2 separate regions of the Homo sapiens genome follow, and region 2 is linked to region 1. The links come from fine-mapping of genetic effects on gene expression. A gene starts in region 1. The other region holds a variant in brackets. All regions are shown on one strand. Distances are between the middles of the regions. Region 1 holds the start of NEU4 (neuraminidase 4). Region 2 overlaps D2HGDH (D-2-hydroxyglutarate dehydrogenase).

The links. PIP is the estimated chance that this variant, and not a neighbour inherited with it, causes the effect. A credible set is the group of variants that fine-mapping cannot tell apart.
Region 2: its variant is the best candidate, but not a certain one, in a credible set for the expression of NEU4 in left ventricle (GTEx, PIP 0.51).

The regions. Positions count from the first base shown.
Region 1 is chr2:241,807,361-241,810,255 of GRCh38, reverse strand. It overlaps NEU4 (neuraminidase 4), which reads right to left and starts at 1,063. Exons shown (of 4, transcript NM_001167600.3): 1 at 982-1,063. LOC124905349 (a long non-coding RNA gene) reads left to right here. Exons shown (of 2, transcript XR_007088398.1): 2 at 888-1,941.
Region 2 is chr2:241,750,289-241,753,183 of GRCh38, reverse strand. It overlaps D2HGDH (D-2-hydroxyglutarate dehydrogenase), which reads right to left. Exons shown (of 10, transcript NM_152783.5): 7 at 2,890-2,895; 8 at 1,796-1,938. Among named protein-coding and RNA genes, the nearest start is that of D2HGDH, 17 kb to the right of the region's middle. The variant G/C (reference allele first, on the strand shown) is at 1,578.

The DNA.
Region 1 (2,895 bases):
TGGCTTTCACCCCACGGGGACAGAGCCCCAGAGGTGCCTGTGGGCCCAGTGTCCTGTGCACTCACAGCCCCAGGAGGGGCGGACCCAGTCCAGGCAACTTGGCCATCGTACACATCCTCCTGCTCACAGCCGAGAATCCTGGGGCAGGGGCAGGTGGGTGGGAAGGGACAACCTCCCCACCCCTCAGAAGCCCCACCCCAGCCCAACCAGAACTGGGTGGCCCATCTCCCTTCTCGTGTCCCCCAAGTCTGGGACTGGTGGAGTCTGACCAGGGCCATCCCCTAAGTACCCAGGCTTACAGGGAAACGGGACCTCCAAGCCCCACGTCACCTTGCAAAGTCCCCTCCTGGGCCACCCTGAGACACAGGCCGGGTCTGGAGCAGGGCTGTCTGGCCAGGGTGTGCCCGCAGAGCTGGGGTGGGGGGCAGGCCTCACTCCCTCTGCTCCAGGCTTTTCAAGCCCACTGTTTTCAATCTAGAGATTTCACAGAAAAACCCGTGTTTTCAGCTTCTCTTGAAAAGTCAGATCTGCCCTCAGGTGCCACCCACTTCCCCTGGGCATCTCTGCCTGGACAAGCCACCGTCTACCCAGGGTATATGACAGCCACGGGTCCCACCAACCCCCAACTGTCACCCCATGGCCCACGGCTGCTCAGAGGTCCCTGGGCCCATCTGGGGCTCTGTCCCCGTGGGGTGAAAGCCACCCGGGGGAAGCTTTCCTTAACCGTCTTCGTGAGCTCTGGCAGCCGAGGGGCCACGCTGACCCCAGCATCACACGGAAGGCTGGGACGTGCCCCCTCCCCCAAGAGCAGTTTCGGCTACTCTGTGTCCCCCTTTTATGGGCTGCACGACGTGGCAGCATTTTAACCGCCCCTTCTCAATGCACAGCCCGGACAGGCTGTTCTCAACACTCTCTACTGCAAACTACACACAGTTTTACGTCGCCAGAAAGACCCCAAATTTCTATTCAAAAAGACCGTACCAGTTTCAGTTCCCGCCAACCTCAAAGGCAGAGACAAAAGGACGGTGTGCCCCTCCTGTAACTTCATTTCTTCGGTGACTGTGAAGCTGAGGGCAGAGTCCACGCCTGGGGACAGGGCTGCCACCGCAGCGGCCACTGCGTCCAACCCTCGCTCCTCCTCCCAGAGACGACCTGCGTTCCGCTCAGGGACAGGGCTGCCAACGCAGCGGCCACCGCACCCAACGCTCGCTCCTCCTCCCAGAGACAACCTGAGCTCTGCTCAGAAGCGGCACCTCCTCATGCTGGACTCACTCGGGCCCACATGTGCCAAGGGGGCCTGGTTTTGGGGCCGGCGGGTTCTGCCTGATGCTCAGAGGGTAACTGGATGCTGAAAACTGTGAGTCTTTCTTCAACTCAGGGGAATGTTTCCAGGGCACGCCAGGCCTCACTCACGCAGGCCTCCGCGACAACTGTTCAGCACTGACTGAGGGTGAAGTGAAATCCTGAAAGCTGAGAGCCAGCGCCCTCACACGAGGGCTGGGACGTAACAAAAGCCCATCAAGAGTTTTGCCCAGGGCTTTCTTGGGCCTTGAAGCATGACGAGACCAGGACCCGTTTAGGATTAAACAAGTTTTACTGGGGGTCTGAAAAAACTCCCCAGGCCTCCACAAACAAGTGGAGAAGGAACTCCCCAAACCTCCATGATTTAGCAGAAGACAAGATAAGGGTAAACACCTGGGCCCATTTAGATCAAGTAAATTTACTGAGTCTTCAGAGGAAGATCTTCAGGACCAGACCTCAGTTAGAGATGAGAAGAATTGAATCACGTACGTCTTTAGACGAATGCACACTGACACGGAGACACAGAGCTTAGAAGGTGTGTAAGCTCTGGAAAAACTGTAATCTGGAGTTGGTCTGGCGATCATTTCCAGGCCTTCTCCCTGTAACCAGTTACAGAAATAAAATCCCTCTTCTTCCCCAGTTCATCTGCATCTCGCTATCGGGCCTCGGGAATGAGCAACCCGACCCTGGGTTTGGTCCGGGAACGTTTTGTTCTCTGCGTGAACTGCTTTCTCATCTGTGGTCTTTTCTGTCTTCTGGGACTCCTGTTGTTGGCACGTGGGCTCCTCCCGGGCCACTTTCCCTTTACCTGGCAGGATCCTCTCCTGTGCCTTTCCTGGGCTGAGGGGGGAGGGAGGGAGGGAGGGAGGGTGGCCTGCCGAGGTCCCTGGGCTAAGAGGGGAGAGTGGCCTGCAGAGGTCCCTGGGCTGAGGGGGGAGGGAAGGTGGCCTGCAGAGGTCCCTGGGCTGAGGGGGGAGGGAGGGTGGCCTGCGGAGGTCCCTGGGCTGAGGGGGGAGGGAGGGAGGGTGGCCTGCAGAGGTCCCTGGGCTGAGGGGGGAGGGAGGGAAGGTGGCCTGCAGAGGTCCCTGGGCTGAGGGGGGAGGGAGGGTGGCCTGCGGAGGTCCCTGGGCTGAGGGGGGAGGGAGGGTGGCCTGCGGAGGTCCCTGGGCTGAGGGGGGAGGGAAGGTGGCCTGCAGAGGTCCCTGGGCTGAGGGGGGAGGGAAGGTGGCCTGCAGAGGTCCCTGGGCTGAGGGGGGAGGGAGGGTGGCCTGCGGAGGTCCCTGGGCTGAGGGGGGAGGGAGGGAGGGTGGCCTGCAGAGGTCCCTGGGCTGAGGGGGGAGGGAGGGAAGGTGGCCTGCAGAGGTCCCTGGGCTGAGGGGGGAGGGAAGGTGGCCTGCGGAGGTCCCTGGGCTGAGGGGGGAGGGAGGGTGGCCTGCGGAGGTCCCTGGGTTGAGGGGGAGGGAAGGTGGCCTGCGGAGGTCCCTGGGCTGAGGGGGGAGGGAGGGTGGCCTGCGGAGGTCCCTGGGCTGAGGGGGGAGGGAAGGTGCTCTTCCCGGGTCCCTGGCGTGAGGGGGGAGGGAAGCTGGCCTGCGG
Region 2 (2,895 bases), 57 kb after region 1:
CCTACCCGTCGAGCATGAGCCAGAACGAGGTGACAGACACACAAGGCGTCTCCTGAACCCGTCCCAGGAAGCGTCTGGAGGTGACTTTGTGAACACAGAACCAGCCCCATTCGGCCCTGTCCTGGTCATGAACCCGGCTCTGGGCATTAATGTTCAAGGCACAGGTCTAGGACTGGACCAGGCTGTGGAGGGGCTGGGGACTGATGTGCAGAGGCTGGGGGCGTTGGGGACAGTCCGCCCTGGGGGTGGCGTGGGGGATGATGTGCAGAGGCTGGGGGCATGGAGGACGGCCCGCCCTGGGGGTGGCATGGGGGCTGGTAGAGAGGTTGGGGGTGTTGGGGGCAGCCTTCCTTTGTGGGGGCATGGGGGCTGATGTGTGGAGGCTGGGGTGCCAGGGTCGCCCTCCTGGGGGTGGTGTGGGGGCTGCATGACTGACTGCCACTCCAGCAAAGCAGCCAGTGCGGGATGAGGGTCCCCACCCGCACCACCAAGGGCAGTTGGGCTCACGTTCCCGCCCCATCTCAAGCAGAAGCTGAGAGAATCCCCGGCGGCTGTCCTGCTCTTTCTGCTGGGAAAACAGACTGACTGGCTGGGCAGCTGCCTCAGCCCGGGCCCCTGGACTGGAAGCCACAGGAGCACATGCAGCCACAGCGATCACCCACACGGAACGCGAGGGAGGGTGAGCCTCTGTTCGTGTGGTCCCTGGGGCCTGGGGATTGCTTGTTACTGCGGCAGAATGTAAGGGAGCTGACTGTCACAGTCCACTTAGAAAAATGCAGGAATGGCAGGCAGAGACCTAGGAAGGACGCACACTTGATCATGCCTCAGTCAACAGAGATGGCACCACACAGCTGCCATTCGCCCAGAGGACGCCCCTGGGCTGGGCATCAGGACACACAAGTGAGCCCAGCCGACCGCACCCCAGCCCTTGGGAGCAGACACCGTTTTGCCCAGAAGCACTGGAATCATGACAGTCAGGCGGCAAAGGTGAGGGGGGAAGATGGCAAGGGCAACACCCAGGCTAACACGAGCCTGAAATCAACTAAGCGGGAGTAAAGTCCTGCGCCCACTGCTCAGGCCCTGGTGACGGTGACCAAGGGCGCCTCCCACTGCCCAGGCCCCGGTGAAGGTAACTGAGGGCTCCTCCCACCCAGGTCCCGGTAACAGTGACCAATGGCTCCCACTATCCAGGCCCCGGTGACGGTGACCGAGGGCTCCCCCTGCCCAGGCCCCGGTGACGGTGACCGAGGGCTCCCCCTGCCCAGGCCCCGGTGACGGTGACCGAGGGCTCCCCCTGCCCAGGCCTTGCCCCTCCTTCCTTTGGCCTCAAAAGGCCAAATCATCTGGTCACACAGTCAACGCCCCTTCCTCCTAGGGAAGGAAAACTGCCCATCCTAGGACTCCCGAGGTCCAGGCTAAGCCTCCACAGCCCCAGGGGCTCCTCCTGCCTCCACTCCTTCCACACGACTCTATGCGGAGCTGCCGCTGACTGGCCGCTTAACCACAGGCTGCAGGGGACCAGCAATGGGGCAGTCCCCTTGCTCATCCCACAGCATGGGGTTGGGGAGGGTCATGGT[G/C]GGGAGGAAGTACTTTTTAAATATTAATGAAAATGGCCTAGACACCAGGAATACATTTTCCATCCAAAGAGGCTACTCTCTCAAAGCCATGAAACCCAGTCACATTTCAGCCACATCCCACACTGTCTAGGCTGCACCAATGACCGTTCCAGGCATCCCAAGACAAGGCTGGACTGGACGGACAGAGAGCGGGGACCTGCAAGCAGGACACAGGGCACCTTGACTTTCCTCTGGTCGGTGGCCATGGTCCCATCGGTCACCAGGCCGGAGCCCAGCGCGTGCTCCAGGAAGTGGCCCAGCTTCTCAGCGTCATGGCCTGCGTTGGAGCCTGAAGTCTCGATGAGGACGTAAAACGGACTCTCTAGAAGTGAGCAAGGAAGGCAGAGTGAGCAGAGGCTCCGGCTGCCAGGGCAAGAATCAGGGCTGCTCGGGCAGAACAGCTGTAATAGCAACCACTGATCTTTCGTGGCCAAGAAGGACCCAGGCAGCCTGCGGAGCACACAGCTCTCTGGTTAAGCTGACTTTCAGAAGGTTTAAAAAGTCGTCTTTGGCCGGGCACAGTGGCTCACACCTGTAATCCCAGCACTTTGGGAGGCTGAGGTGGGTGGATCACCTGAGGTCACGAGTTCGAGACCAGCCTGGACAACACGGCAAAACCCTGTCTGTACTAAAAATACAAAAATTAGCTGAGTGTGGTGGCAGGTGCCCGTAATCCCAGCTACTCAGGAGGCTGAGGCAGGAGAATTGTTTGAACCCGGGAGGTGGAAGCTGCTGAGGCAGAAGAATCGTTTGAACCCGGGAGGTGGAGGCTGCTGAGGCAGGAGAATGGTTTGAATCCGGGAGGTGGAGGCTGCAGTGAGCCAAGATCGTGACATTGCACTCCAGCCTGGGCCACAGTGCGAAACTCCATCCCCCAACAACAAAAAATTATTGGCTTTTTTCCCAGCATAAAAGAAAAACGTGCTTACAGAAAGCAACATGGGAAAACAAAGAAAAGAAGAAATGGAAAGAAAGTCTCCCAGCTCACCAAAAATAGCCACTTAGTTCCTTCCCGTCCTTCCTGCAGAAGATCAGGAAATCTGTGTAACTACAAACCTTACACAGGACCAGGGCAGCCTGTTCTTTGTCCTAAATATGTTAAGAGCAGCTTTCTTACACATGAGCCCAACGGCCACTCCATGCTCCGCCCAGGGACCCCCCACCCGCCCGCCCGGGCACCCCCCGCCCACCCGGGGTCTCTGAGCCGTCCCATGTGTCCAGACGTGCAGAAGGAGCTGCAGGACCAGCTGCCCCCTGTGTGGGGGGTCAGTACCTTGCA